3 separate regions of the Homo sapiens genome follow, and regions 1 and 2 are each linked to region 3. Evidence: fine-mapped expression QTL. A gene starts in region 3. Each other region holds a variant in brackets. All regions are shown on one strand. Distances are from middle to middle. Region 1 has its middle 49 kb from the start of AGA. Region 2 overlaps AGA-DT (AGA divergent transcript). Region 3 holds the start of AGA (aspartylglucosaminidase).

Evidence for each region. PIP is the estimated chance that this variant, and not a neighbour inherited with it, causes the effect.
Region 1: its variant is fine-mapped to the expression of AGA in whole blood (INTERVAL, PIP above 0.99). The same link has a PIP of 0.9 or more in CD4 T cells.
Region 2: its variant is fine-mapped to the expression of AGA in whole blood (INTERVAL, PIP above 0.99).

What each region holds. Positions count from the first base shown.
Region 1 is chr4:177,389,667-177,397,852 of GRCh38, forward strand. No RefSeq gene overlaps it. Among named protein-coding and RNA genes, the nearest start is that of AGA, 49 kb to the right of the region's middle. RefSeq lists a silencer at 3,704-3,763. The variant C/A (reference allele first, on the strand shown) is at 3,722.
Region 2 is chr4:177,481,922-177,490,107 of GRCh38, forward strand. The region is part of intron 1 of AGA-DT (AGA divergent transcript); the gene reads left to right. Among named protein-coding and RNA genes, the nearest start is that of AGA-DT, 41 kb to the left of the region's middle. The variant C/A (reference allele first, on the strand shown) is at 4,886.
Region 3 is chr4:177,438,193-177,446,378 of GRCh38, forward strand. It overlaps AGA (aspartylglucosaminidase), which reads right to left and starts at 4,245. Exons shown (of 9, transcript NM_000027.4): 1 at 4,057-4,245; 2 at 2,081-2,234; 3 at 1,384-1,496; 4 at 553-665. The coding sequence starts at 4,183. AGA-DT (AGA divergent transcript) reads left to right here and starts at 6,818. Exons shown (of 4, transcript NR_183779.1): 1 at 6,818-7,251. RefSeq lists enhancers at 3,291-3,370, 4,197-4,740, 4,831-4,910.

The sequences.
Region 1 (8,186 bases), 49 kb before region 3:
AGGCATAACTGGTTTTCCACAGTTGTCTTTCAGAGCTGCCACAGGGAACAACTTCATAGCCTTATTGAGCATGAAGCAGTTAAAGTTTCCATTAAAATTGGCTAAATTAACTCTCCCGATGCTTTCGGACAAATAGTAAAAGGTCAGGCCTGATGTTTAACTGACTTCATAATATCTGCTTTTCTTTTATTTATTAATATTATTTTCACTTTCCTTTTTATTACCATTGTTTCAAATATGTTATTTAAAGTAACTACACATGAGAATGTTATGAAATAGTGAGGCAATATTAAACCAGTCCAAGCATGGTGCTTCTTTCCATAACCACCTTTATATCTAATTGCAGTCCTCGCCTTCCTGTTTTCTTATTGGACCACTAGGCTGGAATGTCTAAGCTGTGTAAATTCAAGCTCACTAGGCTTTTATCTTTGACAGTGCCTAGTGTCACTTTGGGAATATCTTGGGGAATATGTTACATCTGCACATTTTTTTTTCATTTTATTGTCTTTTCTTCCTTGCAAATTGTTACCTAATGACACATTAACTTGTCAGATTATTTGGTTACTTTCTGTTTCAATCATTTCTATTAATTTAATTTTTCACATCCAGTTTTCATGTTTACCGAGCAATTTTGATGTTCAGTTTGTTTTACTTTCCTTACACTACAAATTTCTTGTTTGAAATCTCCTGCCTTATTTCCAGTTTTTTTTTAAATCCCTTTTCCCTCCCTTTCTTTTCCCTCCTTCCCTCCCTCCCTTCCTCCCTTTCTTCTTTACTGTCTTTCTCTCTTTTTTCTTCCTTACCTGCTTCCTTGCTTTTCTTCCTTACTTCAAAATCATAGGGAAGGCTCACAGATACTCAACAATTATTCAATTGTTACATATTCAAATGGTAAGCATGTAAATGCTTACCATGTCCTAAACACTGTGCCAAGCCCATACATATATATTTTTTTAGTTCTCATAACCATTCTCTGAGGCAGAAATTATCATTCCCCTCATTTTGCAGATATTAAACCTCAGGCTTAGAAAGAACATGTAAACTGACCACGTAAGTCAGTGGCAGAGTCATAGACAGAATTGAGCTACGCTGCCTTTCCCCATAGGGTGAGATTCTCAACCATTCTGCCTGTAACTCTATCTCTGACTATAGCTGCAAAGTGTCCTCTAAAAAAGAAAGGATAACTGTTCTTGATGATATTCACCTCAGAAAAATTAAAGTTTATTCCAAATATCAGAGGCTTCCATTAATAGTATTTTATAAGACTATGATCTATAAATGTGTCCAAAGCCAACCTGAAGTCATTTATGTTTTTTACACTTACTATCTCAAAATGGTAGACTTTTCTAGAAGTTTTATATACATCCTATTAGCTGCTCTTCCTTTTAGACCTTTAAAGTTTCCCTCATTCGTCACCCCTTTCACCTGCATGGCATTTTGCCGGCTCACTGCCACATCTCTTCACTCCCTTCCCTTCCTTCTAACATTTTTGGCTTCTGTCGCATCTCTTCTCCACTTCAACTTTCCAGAGTCCTAATTCAGTTAGTCAATTGTCATTCACTGCCTCTGCTTTCTCTTGATTTCTGTAATTGCACTCCTTATGACCCCTTTCCCGTCCACCATATTCTTCTGAAAGTACAGATCAAATAGATGTCCCAACTTATTTCAGACAGGAAAGCTTTGATTGGGCAAATTATATTGTAAGTACTGTGAGGGCTGGGTTGAAAGAAAAATATGAGACTGAAAGCAGGAAAGCTCTTGCAATAACATGGATAAGAGGCAATGAGGTCTGCTGGGGGGAACCGTGGGCTGTGATGAATGGAATGCAGACAAATATGGGGTAAGATCCACTGCCGCCCACTTGCCAGCTCGGTGGCCCTGGGCAAATCACTGAAGGTCTTTGAGCTTTAGTGCTTTCATTTTCAAGATAAAGGTTGTAATATCTATCTTATTTGTTGCTTCAAGCATCAAAGGAAATACATTTATTTTGGCTTATAGGAGATGCTCCAGAAGTTGCAGTCTTCACAATTTAGATTTGGGGCAATTCGGTTGCAAAGAGAGATAGATAAGGGAAACAAAGACGAGAAGAATAAAAGAATGCCAGTAGGTTCAGTTTGAATTATCTCTGGCTTTCTAAATTCCTAGATTGTTCCTAACCTGCCACAATATATGTGGGTTTTCTTTGTCTTGTTTTCATCTGGAAAAACTTACCATCTTTGAAAAGATATGTTTTTGATAATACTAGCCTATATTACTTGCCAGTTAACTGCTATCTGTGAGTTTCTCTGTATAGGAAGTTGGAGGGGGGTAGTGATGGGAAAAGAAAAAAAGCGGTAGCGGAAGGCAGAAAGGTGGGCAGAAGAAAGATGAGAGTGGAGGGTGGCAGCAAAGGCAAGGTGTTACACAATCTTTCTTTTTGATTCATAGCACACACTTTTCCTGAGTTTGCTCCGGGTTGTTTTCAAAGAGTGTACAGATTTCCTGCTGATTATTGACTCTGCTTTACAATTCCAGCGTTTTGTCATAGTTTGTTTTTTAAAGTTGAGTAACCAAGCACATGTACCTTTGTCTATGCCGCTAATACCTCCTTAGTCACATAACAGCTGTTCCCTGGGTCTCTCCTATAGTGCTGTGACACGTTTGTACCCAGCAAGGAAATCATATCCCTCAGTCATCATTACTTTAGTTCTAATCATTTGCATTTCTATAATCTCTCCTATGATACACATTTGTATTTCAGAATTTCTTGCCCTAGTTAATGTGGGAGAATTAGCTAGAAGGTAAGTTATATAAAAAAATCTGTTTTCTTCCTTGTAATTGTCATCTAGAGGTCTCCCCTACCATTATATCCCTTGAAATTCTGAGTAACTACTGTATATGCTTGTATCTGAGTCTCTTGATCAATCTCAGGGAAAAAAGCATGCTATAGTATTATTATTATTATTATTATTATTGAGATGGAGGCTTGCTCTGTTGCCCAGGCTGGAGTGCAGTGGTGCAATCTCAGCTCACTGCAATCTCCACCTCCTGGGTTCAAGCAATTCCCCTGCCTCAGCCTCCCAAGTAGCTGGGATTACAGGCACCTGCCACCACTCCTGGCTAGTTTTTTGTATTTTTAGTAGGAAAGATGCGGGAAAACACAAAGCTGGGCTAGGGTGGTCTGGATTAAGAGAGAGGCCGTGAGTTGGGGAAATCAAAGGTTTACCACCTTCCAAACCACCACTATTTGCAGCCCTCCTGTTTGTCCTCTGCTAGCCAATGCTTCCCCACTCTCCCATTCTGCCTGTGGGTTGCCCCCTTTAGTCCTGACCTCCATCCCATCTCTCCTCCTTCCACCCATCCCAATCAAATATCTCTAATTTGGTAATTAAGAAGGATGTTCATCTAACTAGAATATTCACACCAGCGAATGGATGAGGCTTAACCCCTTCAGAGATCATTTCCATTTTAAAGCTGTAAAAATGAAGAAAGGGAATATTGGGAAAGAAATGGCCAGATCCTGCATTTTTGGTGACCCCATATCTGCTTTTCTAGAGGGCCAAGAGATGAAAATTATTCTGGCTGCATAATTTATAGCTATATGGATTTGAATTGTTGCTTTCCTCTTGCTTCTCTCTGACTTGACCAAGCACGTAGCTAGGCCTTTGTGCCGCTGTGCACGAGGGAAGCTTCATGCAGAAGGAAGGCGGGGAGTAAGTGTGGTTTGTGGTGAACTCTTTCT[C/A]GTGATCTTTGTTTTCAAGAATCCTGAGCTCCTCTAGGGGTCTGTACTAGAGCAGAAGGCAGGGAGACCAGGGCCTTTGAGCACAGTGCTCTAGAAGGAAACTGCTGCAGTGTGAGCTCGGTGGACTGTACTCCAGTTAGAGGGTCTCAGCTTTGTCCCAGGCTGTGAGGGGCACAGGAGTAACAAACCTGAACCTCAGAGGATACGTGGGTCTGAACATGAACACGTGTAAGGCATATAGGTGGGCTGGTCATAGGAGGACTGTCCCCATCTAGGCTACTCTGGGTGAGTCTCTCCCTGCCCAAAGAACGTTGAGGACCCTAAACTAGAAGGGCACTCACCGTGATGGAGATTGAATTCCCCATTAGGCAAGTTAGAAGGGGGCTCAGAGACTAATTTGTCTTCAAGTAAACAACATTTTTTAGTATATGGGGGTTTGTGGATTCAAACTTACACTCTACAAGAATCAACTTTAGAGCCATGTAAAATCTCCTTTCATCACTAGCTTGTAAATGATCACAAAACAAAAAGTAGAGTAAAATTCACAATCCTCTAGGCAGCAGTGCAGGTATTACTATATCTTCACTGTCTCCATGTTCTCTATATCATCATTTTACTCAAAGCTAGGCTTTGAGGAATCAGTCAGGTTTATTTTAAAACTGAAAATACAAATGTTAACAACGTCTTTTAAAAAACCAGAGTGTCTCCCAATAGTCCTAGCTCAGCTATTTCATTTTTACATATTACCTTTCACTGGCATAATTTTACACATTTGCAATTATGTCTTGCAGACTGTTTCTTTTCTTTCTCAAAGCCTATGAGGGTTAATGCTTCAAATAACCTGCTGAACTTGAGAAGAACTGACAGAAGATATCTATTAATTAATTAGCTCCAGAGAATGCTAGAGGAAAAATAAGAGTGGCTTGGTCTGGTCATTGTATGCCACACAAATAAAGGCTAAAGGGAGATTTTAAAGCATATCACTGGTTAATTGCATACTATTCAAATCCTGAACTAATGCTTTTTTCCCTCTACTTTTTTTTCTGCCACATATTTTCTTTCCTGAAACACCTTGGGTTCTCCTAATAACCTGGATTTTTAAATACGCTCAGGCCTATTCTGGCCAAATACCTGAACTTACAAGATTCCTCTTTTGTACTGTCCTGTTGCTCTTCCTGCGTTTGCAGATTGATAGAATAAGCACTGGAGGCTGAGCACGGTGGCTCATGCCTGTAATCCCAGCACTTTGGGAGACCGAGGCGGGTGGATCACTTGAGGTCAGGAGTTCAAGACCTGCCTGGCCAACAAGGCGAAACCCCATCTCTACTAAAAATACAAAAAAATTAGCCAGGCATGGTGCCAAAAGCCTGTAATCCCAGCTACTCCAGAGGCTGAGGTGGGAGAATTGCTGGAACCCAGGAGGCAGAGGTCAAGGAGGCTCACTGCTTCCTTGAACTCAGGAGGCAGTGAGCCAAGATCGCACCGCTGCACTCCATCCTGGGTGACAGAGCCAGACTCCTCAAAAAATAAATAGAGAAGCCACTGGATAAAGCAGGTCTTGATTCTAGTTCTCCTTCTGCCTACTTTTAGGAGCTTGGTAGGCAAGCCATTCAGCCTTTACAAACCTCATTTGTTATCAGCAAAATGTGAATTACAAATAGTGATTCTATCTACCTCCCAAGGTGGTTGTTAGGATCAAAAGAATCAAATCTGGGAAAACACTTGAAAAACTTTAACATGGAACACAAATGTAAGCTATTGCATAAGACCAAATTAAATATCTTACATTTAATTGTACTTTTTCCCATCTATCAGTTATAAGCAGGTCACCTGAATTTAAAAAATAACTGATACAGAGTAATGTGTGTGTGCATACCATTCTGGCCATAGAGCATACTGAGAAGACAATATTATAATTCACTGCCTAGTACCATTAGTTAGAATGTTTTCAATCCAACCAGGTGATCTACTTTCTTCCCAAGCAGCTTTTAAAAAAGGTACCAAACTGCCATTAAGTGAAAAAAATAACCATTTTATAAACTTCACAGACATTTACTCCTTTATCTTTCTTGTCATTTGCACAGAAAATAAAATTTGCACAGAAAGCACTGAGTTCACTTACTTGAGAAGTGAGGTGATTCGGTTTTCTCTTCCCTTTGGAATCACCACTTTCCTTCTGCTGTTATTCTATGTGGGCTTCACTAATCATAGAATGGCAGTTTCTTAATCAAAATTGTTTTATTTTGAACACAAAAGCAAATTAAGCAGATTTTTTAAGAGATGGAATCACACAGAGTTTATCTTACCTCCAAAGGAATGGATTGGGTTTGGTGTTTGAGTTTTATTAGGAAATTTATCATAAACTCAGGTCAGATATATTAATAAGTATTATATTTGGCTCAAATGAAAGCAGAGGGGAAAATGACGTTAGGGATAGTGATGGTTGAGAAATAAAAGCCACAAATTATTTAATACTCCTGAGCAACATCAAACAAAACACCTCCAAGTTAAGGGATCACTTTTTACACAGCAATATTTACTATAACAGTGGTCCCAAAATTATTTTATGTTGAACTTAGGTAGTTGGTAAGACTAATATTCAATTTTCAAGAGACCGAAGTTCCTACCCCTTAGGTAGTTGGTAAGACTGTTATTCAATTTTCAAGAGACGGAAGTTCCTACTCCTGGTTTTATCATTCATTAACCTGTGAGCTAGCCAAAGTGTCATTTAAATGTGCTGATTCCTTTGTCTATAAAATGGGAATGTCTATTATTTTAAGTTATTATAAAGTTCAAATGAGAATACATGTAAAACTCTTTTCAAAAGGGAGCATGTGGAAGCATTATCATTATTCTCGATTTAACCAATAAGAAAAATTGTAATGTTAATCTCTTATAGTACAGATTTTGTGTTTTTTTTTACAAATCAAATTTTCCAAGAAATGTTTAAGGTGTTTTCTTATTTTCCAGAGTAATATTTATTGTTAGATTGAGGGAGTGGGTGGAAAGAATACAAATTCAAGTCAAAGTACATAAAAGCATATGCCTATTTAAAGTTTCATTTTCTTTCCCATTCTTATTGTGATATTACTCAGCATGATGTATTACGGGCTTTAGGGGTGATTTGTATTCATCGTAAAATTTTCTCTCAGTACTATTAGAGCCCATTGTGGGATGCTTAGGACTGTCTGAAAGTCATTTATCATTCAGAATTTATGATAAAACCACTGTTAGGCAGCTTCTAGACACTCTGTCATATTTACCCTTCTGGAAAGCAACATAGTGAAAGAACATTTGGGAAGTGACCTTGATGCTTTCATATTGTGCTATTGTAAATATCATTAATGCTAGAACTTTTAAACATCCATCCTATCAAGAATCAACTGCTAAGATGTCTAAAAAGCTATATTCCTACATTTCATTTCTGACTCTTTTCCTCAAATTGTAAATGAGCTGTTTCTAGCAAGCATGGTCCTTGATGTGGCATTGGAGTCTACTTTTTAGATCACTGACATTTACTAAGGCCTTTCAAGAAATGAAGGCCACATTCTTCAGACTGTATTTCTGGAAATTATGTGCATATTTAGCTGGATTTGTTTTTCTGTGCAAGGAAGAGACTAGAGACTTGCTGTGCAACGTTATTGGGATGCCCCCTTGAATAAGTCTCAAAGGTCTGAGCAGCTGCTCAGAATGGGAAGTTGTGCTTCTTTGCCAAGACAAGTATTTTTCATTTTCTAGAGTCATAGATTACATTGGACAGAGAGAAAATGTTCTGGATTCTTATTGTCCCAGTGATACCACCATACTACCTACCTTGCATGCAAGTTGGTGTTGAACAATGCAGTGAATCTACAGTGCTAGTGTGTATTCTTCCTCCTTATTAGGGCAATCAAGAAAAAACAAAACTACCTTTGTCCAGAATTTAAGACGATGACAACTCTCAGTTTTGAAGGGTAGAAATTATTTAAGTGCTATTTTTTTCTAGCACCAAAGCCACTTCTTCCGTACAAAGTACTTAGATTGTAAAAGTTTCTTGTAAAAAAACACACAAAAAACTTCCATGATTCCAAGGAAGAAAAAATGCAAAAACATTACACAGTCCCCCCAGAGAGTTGGATGCTGTCCCTTTTTCAAGGCTTGTTGCTCCATTTCTTTTCTCCTGACCCTACCCACCAATATAACCAGTCTCTCCTTGCCTAACATGTCCTTAGACTTTACTCAAACTGTTCCCACTACTAGTAATGCCATTACCTGATACTCCAACTGTTGAAGTCCTACCCTTCCTTCAAGGCCCCATTCAAATTCTGCTTTCTAGGTCTTCCCATATGTTCTCCGATCAAAATGATCTGTCTTCAGATATACCTTCATGATAATTTGCTTATACTTCTATTAATGGCTTATCGTCAACCTTATTTTATCATTAGTTATCTACTGTGTTTGAAATAAAAAATGGGCAGCATGTTGG
Region 2 (8,186 bases), 44 kb after region 3:
TGTATTTATATATATATATATATACATATATATATACACACACACACACACACATATATATATAAATTAACTGTGAAACAGCCTCGGGGAGGTTCTTTGGGAGGTATTCCAGAAGAAGGCTTTATTATCATAGGATAATTTTATCCTATAATCATAGGATAAAATTTTATCCATATTATCACACTCCAAATGGACTATTGCTTCTGAAGACCTTCCAGTAGGACAAGATGTGGAGGTGGAGGACAGTGATATTGATGCTCCTGACCCTGTGTAGGCCTAAGCTAATGTGTGTGCTTATGTGTGTTCGTGTCTTTATTTTTAACAAAAAAGCTCAAAAAGTGAAAAAAATATTTTCAAATAGGAAAAGCTTATAGAATAAGGATATAAAGGAAGAAAATTTTTTTGTTCAACTGTACACTGTATTTGTGTTTTAAGCTGTGCTATTACAAAAGTCAAAAAGTTTAAAATATTAAAAAGTTTATAAAGTAAAAGTTACAGTAATCTAAGTAATTTATTATTGAAGAAAGAAAAAATACTTTTAAAATAAATGTACTGTAGCCTAAGTATACAATGTTCATAAACTCTGTAGTAGTGTACAGTGATGCCCTAGGCCTTCACATTCACTCACCACTCACTGATTCACCCAGCTCCACTTCCAGTTCTGCAAGCTTCATTCAAGTTAGGCACCTATACAGGTGTACCTGTGTTTTTACTGTATTTTACCTTTTATACTCCTTTAATTTTTACTTTATCTTTTCTAAGTTTAGAAACACAAAAACTTAACCACTGTGTTACAGTTGTTTATAGTATGTAGTACAGTTACACACACACTGTACAGGTTTGTAACTTAGGGGCAACAGATTACCCCATATAGTCTAGGTGTGCAGTAGGTGTGTCAGTACACTCTATGGTGTTTGTGCAATGACAACATTGTCTTATGATACATTTCTCAGAATATATCCTCATTAAGCGACACATGATTATATTTTATTTTGAGGCAGAGTTTGTTCTAACAGCTGATCCTTCTCCCCACTCTTTTTTTTTGCTACATATTCTCTTGCACTTTTTTGATTTATTATTCCACTTGTATGTCTATTAGTATGTTTTATACAAATATCAGTATAAAACAATGCACATGATGACCTCTTTATGGTATCTTAGTAACAATCCAGATAATAAAATCTTTGAGTATGTGCAAAAATATGGTAGTAAATATGGAAAGTGAAAATATACATTATTGAGATCGTTTTGAGACATTTCATTCTGTAAGTTCACAGTAGCAGAAATAACCACCATTTTTCCAAACTGTCACAAAATATAGTGGTAATTATGCTGGGATGAATACACATCTCATTTCCATATTTTCTATAGGGTTTCTTTAATGTTATTAATATGATATTAAGCAGGGGATTCTTCGTTTCAGGTGACTTGAGAGCTATTTCTGACCATATCTTTGAGCTTTTCCTAGTAAGGAAAGGTGAAGTTCAAATGCCTGAGCATACAGATGTGGTACCATGTGGAAAGGGTGGGGTGACTCAATCTTATTTCCCTCTTGGTTTCTTCCTGTTATTGCTCTGTTTTGAGTAATTGCCCCTTTCTTCTGAGAAAACAAAAAAAGCAGCCTTTCTTAGGGAATCACAAATGAGCTCCTTTAATTCTGTGGACCAAGTCCTTTTGCAGACCAGTTAAAGTGGTTAATCTCTTGCTACTGATCCAGCTGTAGGACATCTTTTTCCTTGAACTGTTGAAAGCTCACAGGCTACTTGGATTCTTTCTTCTTTGTGTTTTCTGCCTGAACTTTTTACTACTGAATTTTTTCCTCTTTCTTTTGTTTTACATCATTGCCAAACTCATGTGTATTATTTTTTTTAAAAAGGAGCATTTATAGATGGGAAGAATTGTCCCAGTTTTATGCATGTCCGGTGCAATTCATGCTCTACTTGAAAGTGATTCTGCATTTTGTCTGTAAAACAAACTCAGAAGGCTTCATCCAGAACCAGTTTACACAGCTTCAAAGAAGAATGCAGATGTGACATAGTACGAATGCTAACAGCGATGGTAAGGTCTCACAACACCTAGGTGAGCTTCTGATGTTCCCAGATTACTTCCAGTCACCATAAATTACTTTGCCATCCACTAGCTCTTAAAACTTTCCTTTTTATTGCACAAAATGCAAGTGAAAAAACAGAAGCTGGAAAATGCATACATGTAAATGTACAGCTGGACTTTCTCCTGTAGGCTAGGTTGCAATAATTATAGATTAGGCCTTTAGAATATTTCATTTCACAAAGAATGAATTCTTCTTTACATGCCCTAAGTCTTGTTCTATCCTCTAAATCAATTATTTTCAACAGACATTTCCTGAACATGCTAGGTAGTAAGCTGAACGCACACATATGAATAAAATATAGTCTTAATCACTTATGGTCTCCCTTGGCTTGAGGAACTCATAAGCTAACTGCTTAGAAGTTGTAAAGAATTTATTTTGGGGGAAGAGCCTAACTAATAACAATGAAGATACTTAAAACTTATTGACTTGTAAAGACAGGATAGCATAGTAGTTAAAAGCTTGGACTCTGATTTCACCACTTTCTAGTGTTGACCATTGGAAAAGTGGTTTGATCATCTGATGCCTGTTTCTTCATTTACCAAAAATAGTTAGTAACAGAATTTACCTCATAGGCTTGTTGCAGGGCTTAAATGAGTTAATAGTTGTAAGGCACTTAGAACAGTGCCTGGAGTCAAATAATTGTTTAAAAATAGTTAAAATGCTTTGCTTATACCAAGGATAGATCTAACATTAGGAATGCACAGATGGTATTAGTCATCTATTGTGTAACAAATTACCCCCAAACCTAGCAGCTTAAAACAACAAACCTATTGTCAGGCATGTGAATACCTAGTTAGCTATTTGTCTCTGATTCAGGGTCACTTAAGGCAGCAACTAAGCTGTGAGCTGGGGCTGCAATCATCTTAGGTCTTGAATAGGGAAGGATCAGCTTCGAAGGTCATTGTTGTGATGATTGGCAGGTCTCAGGTGTTTGTAGGTTGTCAGATGGAGACATCAGTTCCATGTCACATGGACCTCATGGGACATTTTATAACATGGCAACTGGCTTCCCTCAGACTGCGGAATGGAGGAAGTAAGAAAGGGCACCACAGAGGAAGCCACTGTTTTATGATGAAATGATATTCTATCACTTTTACTGCATTTTGTTTGTTATAAGCAAGTCACTGGGTCTGGGCCACACTCAAGGGAAAGGATTTACACAAGGGTCTGAATACCAGAAGGTGGATTTCTTTGGTGACCATCTTATGAGATACCAACCACAGAGATGATTAGTATTTTTCTTAGCCTATAAATGCTAAATAGAATGTATTTAAGTACACAGTGTTTAGAAACTGTATTTATAGTTCTTCCAGTAAGAGAGAAATGAAAGTCACTTAAAATCTCCAGAAATTTGGCAATCTTTGAATGAACTTTATTTGCTCAACTTAAAGTTTGTCTCAGATGCCAGGTTGTTCATTAAAGTTTCTGTTAGTCCATTGTCTGTCTTTAAAAGATAGAAAGACCATGGTAACTTGAAAGTCGCCAAGTAGAACTCCCCCAGGGTTGGAACTAATACTGCTTCTTTCCTCTGAAGCTCTTGTTCCACTCTGATTTGTGGATTTACTTATATAATTTAGTCAAGACTATGGCTTCTTGGAAGAAATCTCAGAAGGACTGAAATATAATAGCTTCTTTGTCCATACAGCCCCCAAAGTGTGATTCACAGAATATTTTGCCCTTCATGGCTCATGAGAAACCACGTCATGTCTTTAAGTCATTGACTTAAAACTAAATTATGAGGATGAATCACAAAATGATGTAAAGAAAAGTGTCTGTTGAATTTAGTATGAATAATCAACCTGTATAATGTAAGATAAAAAGAGAAAAATAGTGTTCTAAGATAAGAGTTGCTATGATTTTATTTGGTCTTGAAGCACTGAGATGTATTCTATTTTGCCTCATCAGTTCAATCAAACACACATAATTAATATTTTGTTACTAATTAATTTGTGTGTACTTTGAAAAAGTATCCTTGAACTACACAATTTATATGAACTATTTCTGAAGTATATTTAGAAGAGAAAAAAAATTTATGATTGCTTTTTCAATTAGTATTCCTCTGCTTATATTGTGCCTGACCTCTTTTAAAACCTTAATTTAAATGAAGAGTAAAGAATTCAACATTCTCTTGCAAGGTGTATTCCGGATGAAATATTCTTCAGTTATGTTTCAAAAACATACAGAGTTGTTCTGAATTTTAATTAGACTGGCAATGAACTCTTGTTCTCTAGAAACATGAATAGTAAGACACAATTTCCTAGCAGCATCGTAACGACAAAAACAACAACAACAAAATGATGTTTCAGTATGCCTTTCGATGAGGAGAGAAAGTAGAGAAACTTACTATTAAGAGATATATTGGTTACATTAATTTAAAAATTTATACAGTAAGTGAATTTTGTGGAAAAAATAATTGTTTCTATTTTCTGATTAGACCACCTGCATAACCTCATCTTCTCATCCTAATTCTTCTCTATTATTTCTGAACCCTTCCGTATTAATTATCCTCCCTTTCTATTCCATCTTCCATGTCTTCCTCCCCATGGACCTCTTTTTCTCTGCCTATTCACAGGCCCAGACCTCTTATTTATAAACAGAAAATAAAATAGAAATTTTCCTTTAGCCATGCCATTCCCTTGAGGAACTGACTTATCATGCACATTTTTAACCAAACCAAACCAAACAAAACAAAACAAAAACTCTTTGACAGAAACTGTTTCTGTCCTCTATGCTTTTTATCTTTGCATTCTTCAACCCTAAATAATCTACCTTCCA[C/A]CTTAACTCCTTAGCAAGTGAGCAGCAGCCGTCACATGTGATTGTATCATAACACAAACAATGGTCTCTTTTCAATTTTCATCTACCTTGATAAGTTGTCAATGACTAACACTGATTCCCCCAACCCTTTTTGCAGAAATCAATCACCCTGGCTTTCTTGATATAGCATTTTATAGTTCTCCTATCTCCCACTAAAGGAAGAAATAGAAAGACAGAGAGAGAGAGAGAATGGTGAGACATACTTAATTAATATAAATAATTGGTTTACACTATTATAGAGGTGGAGAAGTCTGAAGATCTTCAACTGGCAAGCTAGAAAACCAAAAGAGCTGATGGTGTAGTACCAGTCCAAGTCAAAAGGCCTGAGAAACAGAACAGTGGTCTAAGTTCCAGTCCAAAGGTAGCAGGCTTGAGACCCAAAATGAACCATTTCAGTCTGAGCCCAAAGGCTGGAAAAACCAACTTTCCAGTGCAAGCAGTCCGACAGAAGTAATTCCCTCTTACTCAAGGGAGGGTCAAATTTTGTCTTGTTCAAGTTTTCAGCTGATTAGTTGAGGGCCATCCACATTATGGAAAGTAATCTGCTTTACTCAGTTTAATAATTCAAATATTAATCTTATCCAAAAACACCCTCACAGACACACTCAGAATAATGTTTAACCAAGTAGCTGGGCACCCCATGGCCCAGTCAAGTTGACATATAAAATTAACCACACACCACCACCCATTCTAAATTCCCTTTTCCCTCAAATGACACATAGCAAATCAGGGTTTATTCCTTGTGGGTAACTCAAATCTTCCTTGTTGTAGCAGAATTGGGAAGTAACCTTGCCCAGAGCATTGCATCTTCCAGAATATTCTTTCAGTCTTCACAATATAGCAATGACTATTTCCCCGTAAGATGTATTAATCACCCACTAAAACAGTAACACCCCTTGTTCCTTTGTCGGTTCAGTAACATGTGGACTCCCAAATGACCAGGCGACAATGCCATCTGCTAGTGCAGTGGGATCATTTTTATTTTTTTGGTTGAGAACATTACTCCCTTGGATACTGTTTCAGTTACAGAACAAGATAACCTGCTACCATGAAGAAACCACAAAATACGGTAGCTCAAACAAGATACTCTTTTCCCCTCCCATGAGTCCAGTACTGGCAGATGGTTTAGGGCATAAAACTATCTCTGCTTTATAAGATTACATAGGGGCTTCTTCAGTCTTGTTCTGTCTTGTTGCTCTGTAGTGCTGTAGGGTTTTGCAGGCATGGTCAGAACTGGATCATCTGCATTACATCTGTAGAATTTGTATGTATTTCTACATATGAATGTGGAAAGAAAGTAGAGTTCAGGCATTTTCCATTATTAAAGATTTGACCTGAAAGTTGCATGCATCACTCTGCTCACACCCCATTAGTCATAACTTAACCACATGACTACCTAATAGGTGCAATGGAAAATTGTAACATGTAGTCTCTAACCGGGCAGCCATGTGCTAAATACTTAGGGTGCTCTATAATTAAGATGTAGAAAGGGATCATTAGTCTTGGGGACATTATTAGTATTGAAACCTCTAAACAACTGGAGACCAAAGTTCCAGGATGGAAAACAAAATTATGAACAAGACAGCAGGTTTGAGAGCAAGGTGCCACTTTCATTCCTTGGTCCCAGGCTCATGTATTTTTGGTTTTGAGAGACTTGGCATCATATACGAGATGATGGTTTGAAGCATATACCACATCCTGAAAGACAGTGCCCCAACCACGGTGGGATTGGTGCTCACTGGGAGGATTAATCTTTCCTACTGTCCATCAGGGACACCCTGACTGTCCTGAAATGCTATATTGGTCTACCTCTGCATGGTTATAACATACCATGTTTATGTAAACCAAGTCCAAATGTTTTCTTCCTCAGTCGAGTAGTAACAAAAGTCATTCTCATGAGACTTTATGAGGGAGAGGAGGCAGGACAATAAGAGTAGAGATGGTGAGAATTTGAGTTGTCTCTGCATGCAACTTGCCTATGTCTTTACATTGACTTCATGATGGAGTGTTGCTGACAACGTGATGATTTTCTGGGTTCAGTAACACCTAATTCATGCTGGACAGGTCAGGTTGCATGGCCATTTGGTATCTCATGATTGAGTGTTTAGTCTACCAGATCCTAGTAATACGGTTGCAGTTAGTACAAAAGAAGAGAAAAATTGTTTCCAGCGAGGGTTTTTCCTCAGGGGGCATTCAATGAGTGTTTACTATGATTTTCTTCCAGGAGCCTGCCATTGGCTCCACTAAGTACCCTGATCTGCTACAGTCATTTCAAGTACTAATGGGTCCACAAAGTCATAAGAGCTAAGAGGCAGGGATGCTTTTGCTACAGCTTTATCAGCTGTAAAACTTTGTCTTTCTCTGGATTCCATTCAAAACTGGCAACCTTATAGATGGCTTGCTAGTTTAGAAAAATATGCCAAAAGTTGTATGTTGCCTACCAAATTGAAATAGGACCGTGGTGTGCACTTTATCTTTCTTAGTTGTGGGCAATGCAAGGTACAGCAAGTTGCCTTTCACTGTGGCAAAGATATTATAATGTTATTTAGTCCACTGAGCACTATATTTTAATGGGTTTATCTTGGACCTTTTTATTTACTTGTGTCTTAGCAAGACCACTAGGTTAATTGCTTTTAGTTAGTGTTCATAAAATTCTATCTTTAAAAAATAATCAGTATAAGAGTAAAACTTGACTTACTGTGGAATGGTGAAATCATTATCATTCCTATAGACTAAATTATGACACAGAGATAGAATTACCACACATAGCTCACATACTACACAAAAACTGACATATCACAAGACAGGAAAGTGAAAATATACTGCTGTCCATGCCCAGTGAAAGCAAACTGTTTCTGGTATTCTCTATATAGTATGATGGAGAGGAAAAATAGTCCAGCTGCATACTAAGCTGAAGGGCTTAATTTGCTCTGTTATGAGACAATATTTGGTTCAGCAGCTTGAATTTGAGTAACTATTGCTTAAACTCTCCCTAATCTACTATTCTTCTGTAAGTCTTATTGATTTTCTGTACAGACTGAAAGGCAAATTGAAAGAGGACACATAAGGGACCAAAATCACTGCATCTTTTAAGTAATTAATAGTGGCACTAATATACAGATTCCCACTGGAGATATCATGCTGCTTTGGTCTTACTCATCTTAGGGAAGGGGAATTCCACAGACACCAAATTGGCCTGTGGTTCCATCTAGTCCTCACTCCGTGATTCAGAGTCAATGTAGGGATTTTGCTAGTTGTTGAG
Region 3 (8,186 bases):
TGGCTACTCGAAAGTAATTAGGACTTAGGGAAGAAATAGATGAGAGACTAAGATATCCCACAGAAGGACCCTGTACGGCAAAGGCAAACTGATTTATGCCAAAAGTCTCATTAAAGAAAAATTATTCCACTGGTAACATACTAGACATGTAATATTACATGTCCTCAAGTCAAGAACAAGATACTGGATACACTGCACGTAAAATCTAAGAAATATTTTAGACTCATAGTTTCCAAACTGATTTTTTAGACTTAGTTAGAAAGAAATACAAGCAGAGCAGCCCTGATTGAGGCAGCCACCTCCACATGGCAGAAACTTCAGTTTGAAAACTATTGTGAGAGACCAGTAGCTCTCCATGCTGGATATGCACCCAATGCAGCTAGAGGTGTTTCAGGAACATCCATACCTGGAGAGTCAACTAAAACCACTAGTTCTAATGTACAGCCAGGATGCTAACCAGTACCCTGGACAACAGGCAGGCAACACTGAGCAGAAAGGATGTCACTGAATATTTTCAATTAACTTATTTTTTTAAATTAAATGTGTGCATACCCTCCAATAATTTGGCTGGCAATTCCGAGCAAGCCAATCTGAATGAAGAGCTTGAGAAGCAGTGGTAGATAAGTCTTCATTGATAAACCCCATACTTTGAGCAAATGTGGTGGCTGGAGATTGGAAAAAAGGAAAGTATAAATTATTCAAGTATTGTCTTTTCAACAAAAATATATGTACTAGAGACATTCTGGGTCAGCAGCATCTTAAGTGAGCTACACAAAGACTTTCAAAGGAATATTCACACATGAACAGTTTTAAGAGACTCAATTTTTAGACCTTCGATTTCCTTATGCCTTTCCTAAAACAGATCCACTTAAAACCTTTGGGGCATGCATTATAAGAGTTCTCGTCCCGGCCAGGCGCGGTGGCTCACACCTGTAATCCCAGCACTTTGGGAGGCTGAGGCGGGTGGATCACGAAGTCAAGAGATTGAGACCATCCTGGCCAACATGGTGAAACCCCGTCTCTACTAAAAATATAAAAATTAGCTGGGCATGGTGGCACGTGCCTGTAATCCCAGCTACTTGGAAGGCTGAGGTAGGAGAATCACTTGAACCCAGGAGGCAGAGGTTGTCGGGAGCTGAGATCGCGCCATTGCACTCCAGCCTGGGTGACAAGAGCGAAACTCCGTCTCAAAACTTCCATTGCCTTCTTCTTAGAGATGAAGAAGTAAAGAGATTTAAAAGTTACTTATCCAGTTCAATAGATGTTAAGTAAAACAGCTGGAATTTGAACTTAGATCTGGTTTTATCCATGATTTTGTACTATTTTTCAGTGAAAACTATAGTCAAAAGACTAGAAAAAATTTCAGTGTAGTTAAAAAAATACCTGACTCTCCTACTAAAAGTGTGTGTGTTGTATGTTCCAGTACTTTCCGTGCCACACCAATAGCATTTTTAATTCGTCTGAGATCTCCTACTGCTCCTACATCCATAGTAGTGCTGCAAGAAAATAGAATGCAGTTAGGAATTAAGGAGTTTTCAGAGGTTCATAGATTAAAAACATTGCTTTTCTCCAATCAATAGTGTTTTGCGGTTAAACTCCACCATCTTAACACAGAAGTGACAGCACATCCACGAAGTTCATATAGATTCCCACAATCAGACAAAATTAAGGAAAAAAAATAGAAAATCAACTTGCCATGTACCACAACAGCACTAAAATTCTCAGTTTCTCCAAGCTAATTTTAAATATGGCTTTTGAAAGGGGCCTGAAGGCTTCAGGTCAGGCAAACCACAGCATTTGTGGACAGCAGATAAATGATTGTTTATAAGGTCAGAGACATAGTTTTTTAGCTTGGCATTCTCCCAGTTCTAAGGGACTACCTATCTCTCCATGTGATATTTCTATTACTCTGATTTTTTTTTTTCAGTTGAGAGGGAAACTGTGTTTAGAAAGGTCAAGTATAATAAGCTAGGGGTTTTGATCTGTGTCAAAACTCATGCATTCTTTCATCTTGCTCTCAGAAGACCACAACTCTAAATGTAACTCAACATAATAAATAGGACCTGAACGGTGTTCTTACCCATCCATGATCATGGCATCTAGTGTGGTTTCTCCAAGTTCATCAGGACTTCCTCCAAAGCCTACAGAGCCGTCACACTGCTCTCTCTCACACATGGCACAGCCGCTCTCCACTGCATCCAGGGCAGAGCCTCCAGATGCTAATGCCCTCCACGCTGTTAATCAAATCCCAATAATGCTTGTTTATATATATATTTTTTTTTCAATGCCAAATGCAACAAACCAACTCCAATTTAACAACTTTTTCACATTTACTGAGTTAAGCTGATTTTTTAACACATTAGTTTATCAAGTGTTACAAAGGAGTCAGTGAAGAGTCAAAATTATTTAACTAGTTATCAGAAGAACTCAAAAAACTGGCTATTGGTGCAAGCTGAAGGTTTTTTTTTTTTTCACTTACTAATATCTATCTCTTCTGTGTGCGAGAAACGAAATCAGTATCCCCTCCTTTATTTTAAAAGGTACAATCGAAACCACTAAAAGGCAGTTAAATAAAAAATCCACTAAACCGCAGCCTTCTTCACACATTTCTTCTGCATCATTAGATTAAAATATGCATAATTGATATGTGTATTGAGGTAACACCTATCCCAGGAAGTCTTAATAATACTGAACAGCAAACAATTACAACGTGGACTTCATATGGATTAGTTCATTGAGTCTTCATAACAGCTTCTGTGGTAGGTACTGTACAATCACGACCCTCATTTTAAAGAAAAGTAAACAGAGCCACAGGTCAGGCAGTTAGTTTAAGGTCACACAGCTGGTAAGTAGCAGAGCCAGGATCCCATACATTTGGGGGTGTGGGGGGAAGGGTCTTTGATGGACAATTTCTTTTCTGGTAACAACAGAATTCCTTGAAGAGTGGGTGCTCTGGTTGGTAAACACTACAGCACCTACAGGCTTGAAAGTGTATTTACGCAAGTTCCCTCTTTCAATACAGGCAACTTAAACACAGAACTGTCCCCCGCCCAGGCTGATGCAATTTCTTTTCGTCTCATTATGGCTGGGAATATCTTTCTCACAGCCTGCTTCTTCATTTTCTCTGAATCGTATGCACTGCCACCAAATTCTGGAGCCAATTCTGCCCTAGAAAGTTAATACGTTAGCAACCTCAGATGGAGGAGGAGGGGTCTGAAAATGACTCTTCTGGTCATTAAGCAAATGAAAGAAACAAGCATAGTACAATGCGAAAATGCCAAGATAATGGTACGTAAAGGCTATTAACAAGGTGTAGAAGGCAGGAACCTAACTCATTCTGGACACGAGGGCAGTTAAGTCAGGGAACGCTTCCTGGAAGAGGTGATACCTTAGCTTAGTGGTTCTCAACCCTGTCTGCAAATCGAAATCACCTAGGGAGCTTTTTAAAGAAAAACAGTGGCCCTGATTCCAGCAGTTAGATCACAGTCACAGGAGGTGGGCCCCGGCAGGATGATTTTTGAGAAGCTCCCCAGATAGTGTGAATGTACAGCAAAGGTTGGAACCTTGAATTCTAAGTGGCAGGTAAAGTATGACAACACGTGGCAAAAAAAGTAAATGGGAAAAGAGTAGGCTATGGCTGGGACACTATTAGTCGTCTACAAAATTGCAAAGAAGTGAAGGATTAGAAACGAGAGGTGGAGACGTACACAGCCCGTGAAAAGACTGTCAGGCAGAAAAGCGTAGCTGCTACTTGATTAAAGCACAAAGGCCATAACTATGGTCAGCAGCAGGGTGGAAAATACATTGCGCTGGGGGCTGCATGAAGGGAGGACCTAAAATGCAACAGCGGTAGGTGGGGAGGATGCAGTAAAGGCCACTTGCAAGAGACTGAGCGGCGCTGGAGACTCGGGAAGACCTAGAGGGCGGGACCGCGAGGCCCGGCCCAGCCCGGCGCTCTTCCGTCCGCCCTGCCGGGTGACTGCAGCGGGGCGGGCTAGTCATCCCCACCCGCAAGCTCTCGCGGCGCAGCCGCCCGCCCAGGCCGCCAACCCGCACCTGCTTCGGTTGCATTCTTAAAGGGCCAAGTGTTGACGACCAGGGGCAGAGGGCTGGAGCAGCGCACTAGGGCCTGGCAGAGCAGAAACGGCACGAGAAGCACAGGCAAGTTCGACTTCCGCGCCATCCCTGACCACCGAAGAGACCAGCGCGAGAAAAGTCCCGGCAGCCAGCGATCGCCGAACAATTAATCCCCAGTGCCCCGCCCGCCTGGCGCCCACGCCCGCTCTCTCGGGGGTTCGCTCAGGCGTCCCTCAACTCTCGCGAGACGAGGCGTCCCTGGGCCCGCGGGAGAGTTGTGTCACGGGGCACTGAGCTGTTCCCTGCGCTAAGGTGCTTCTTCCTAAGTGCTGTTCAGATTTTTAAAATAGCCAGACAAGTTGCTGCTTTTCCTGTGGTTAAAATAGATTTAGCTTGATATTGGGAATTTAATACAAAATTATTCAACTCTGGGTTGCAGGGCCCCAGGAACTTTAGCCGATTGCTGTGTACTATGGATTTGGTTCTTTTACTGTCTTTTTAATTTAAAGTTGAAGTTGAAAAGTTTGTCAAACTCAGTATATTCTTGGGGATCCCAGGCCTCGGAGGTCTGCAATAGTTATGAGTGTAGGTGAAGCGTGTTTGCTTAGGACCGGATTGATTTTAGATTTTTTTTCCATTCATAGCGTCCGTCATTTTCGCACCACAGCTTTTTGTAGCACTTCCTCTCATTATAAATCCCTGAGCTGGAAGAAAAACAGAAACGGCCTATGTACCCTCTACCTAGCACACTGAAGTGCAGCTTCCTGCACCTCCAGGGCAAGACGGCTACCTCCATTCCTTTTTAAATGTATTTTTACCTTCCTGCCTGGCACTATTAAGTGCTAAATAAATGAATAAGAGGAGGAATGGGGATTTTACGTGCTTGGTGGAGGCTGCTCAGTTTTGTTGCTGGGCAGACGTGCGAACATGAACTAATAATCCCTTTGGGTGTCTGGAATGCCTGCCCAGGTTGCCAAGGCAAGACACATAATCACATAATTTTTAAAAGCATCTATAAATCTATACAAACTTTAAAAATATGAACTAGGCTGGGCACGATGGCTCACGCCTGTAATCCCAACACTTTGGGATGCTGAGGTGGGTGGATCACGAGGTCAGGAGTTCGAGACCAGCCTGGCCAACATAGTGAAACCCGTCTCTACTAAAAATACAAAAATTAGCCGGGCGTGGTGGTGCATGCCTGTAGTCCCAACTACTTGGGAGGCTGAGGCAGAATTGCTTGAAGCCGGGAGGTGGAGATTGTGGTGAGCCGAGATCGCACCACTTCACTCCAGCCTGGACAACAGAGTGAGATTCTGTCTCAAAAATAAATAAATAAATAAATGTAAAAATATAAACTAGGTAGGAGTTGTGAGACTTACAAAACCTTCAAGGCTCTTATTGATTGCTAGGAAATTAAATACATAATTTAAAGAACATAAGATAGCCCAGAAGTATCATTATCCCGTTGGGGAAGTGTTAATTAAAAGATATAATAAAGACAAATTTTCTAAGTTCCTTTCATGGGGTTTGGAAGAGGAACAAGTCATCTGTGCTGGAGTAATCATAACCCAATGGCAGGTGAAACTGGAAACTTGGGTGAAACAGGGTAAGAAAGCCAGAAAAACATACATTGTCCTCTGAGTAAATTTTCCTTAGCTCCTGGGCTGAGTATTTTTATGCAGCCTTAAGGAATTAGGACATGCCTTTAGCAAAAATTGTAAAATACAATACATGGAAAATTGGTCTTAGTACCCCACTGATCTCTCTAGCCTCTTCCTGTTTTTTAAGGTATTTGTGTTTCTTCTGGTGGAAAGAGCCTGATCTGTTACCTCCTACTATGTCTATTTCTCCAAATTCTTTCTTCTTAAATAAAAATTCCTGTCAGAGAAACAGCTAAATTACACTATAGTGGGAATGGCTGATAGAAGGTCTCAATATATCAACTTTTCCATGGATATTTGTATGTATGTATGTATGTATGTATTTATTTTTTGAGATGGAGTCTTGCTCTATCGCCCAGGCTGGAGTTCACTGGTGTAATCTCAGCTCACTGCAACCTCCACCTCCTGCATTCAAGCGATTCTCTTGCCCCAGCCTCCTGAGTAGCTGGGATTGCTACTGCCTACTACCATGCCCGGCTAATTTTTGTATTTTAAGTAGAGACAGGTTTTGCCATTTTGGCCAGGTTGGTCTTGAACTCCTGACACAGGTGATCCACCCACCGCCCCCACCCCCCCGACCTCCCAAAATGCTGGGATTACAGGTGTGAGCCACCGTGCCCAGCCGGATATTTGTATTTAAATAACTAATATGCAATCCCTATAGAATCTACCCGATTCAGTGTCTTCTTAGTGGCTACTAAAATACCTACTGGATCCACTGTCCAGTTTGCCTAAATTGTAGCTGTTTCTTAAGTTAAATTCGTCTGGATATTTGGTTCCTTCTGGAGTAGTTTTCCTTTGACTAACACTTGAAGAATAATTTTCATTTTAGTTCTAGAAGTAACCTTCTGTTACTCTCACTTAGGTGCTCTTTTGGGCCTAAATATAATTAGATCCTTCGCCGTTGTTTTGAGGTAAATCTAAACGAAAAGGAACACCTGTTAACAGGTAGTGATGCCGCAGGAAAGTGCTGGGAAGGGAATGCTGGGAAGGGAAGGGCGTGGTCCCTTTAAATGATAAGGAAGGGGGGCGGGAAGTGCTGGGTAGAGGAGGGCGTGGTCCCCAGCTAGGGCTTCATCCCTGGGCCTGGGCCTACCTAGGTGAAGACAGGCATTTTTGTTTTCCTGCCCGGATGTTGCATTTCCCAAGACCACCCTGGCCTGCCATGCCCTCATCCTGTGCCTTTAAAAACCCCCGAGACCCTGGCAGGCAGACGCACAAGCAGCTGGACATTGAGAGGAGCATATAGGCAGAGAATACAGGGGCTGCTGGATGTCGAAAGGAACGCACCAGCATAGGAGCACACCGGCATGCTGGCAGGCCATTGACCAGCGGAAGAATGCAGAGTTTGTCGCGGGAGGTCAGAGAAGAGTCAGGCCGCCATACCTGACTCCAGGAGAAAACCGTCTCCCTTCTGGTTCCCCCGTCTGCCGAGAGCTACTTCCACTCAATAAAACTTTCCACTCATTCTTCAAGCCCACGTGTGATCCAATTCTTCCCGTACACCAAGGTAAGAACCCGGGATACAGAAAGCCCTCTGTCTTTGCGATAAGGCAGGGGTCTAATTGAGCTAACACAAGCCGCCTACAGACGGTTAAACTAAAAGAGCACCCTGTAACACATGCCCACTGGGGCTTCAGCTGTAAACATTCACACCTAGACACTGCTGTGGGGTCAGAGCCTCACAATCTGCCCGTCTGTATGCCCCTATAGAGGTTTGAGCAGCAGGACACTGAAGAAGCGAGCCACACCCCCATCACACGCCCTGCAAGGGCGACAAGGGAACTTTTCCTGTTTCAGTAGTAGACCGTAAAATAAATGATCCTCAGTTTTTCCAGCATCCTCTCCAATTTTTCATTCTTTTAAATCATTATACACAGGGCAGAGATATTTAGTGTTACTGATAAATCAAAGGAACTATTTGTAAAAGTATTTTTATTTAAATTTAGAATGCATTACACAATTTTGTTTGGCAAAATGTTTCTGTTCCTAAGTAGAGCTTACTTATAACTAGCAATACTTCAGGAGGATTTTCCAGACTTAGATTTTAAAACTTAGGGTGTGGCCAGGCCTAGTGGCTCATGTCCATAATCCTGGCACTTTGGGAGGCTGAGGTGGGTGGATGGCTTGAGCCCAAGAGTTTGAGACCAGCCTGGGCAACATAGCGAGATTCCTGTCTCTATTAAAAAAAAAATTAAAAAAAGGTGACTGTGTATCAGCTGTGGTTAACTCATGTAAGCTTCCTAAGCCATGCTTTTCTCATCTATAAAATGGAGATAATAATAGTATTCTTTCTTATTTTACAAAGCTTTGTGAATGAGGTAGGAGATGTGGGAGAATGGTGTAATACCAGGCAAATTAAATAAAATTCTCTTATTCTAATTTGCCATTCCCAAGTACCTATAATTGATGTCAAGGAGGCAGTCCAGAAACATACAAGGCAGT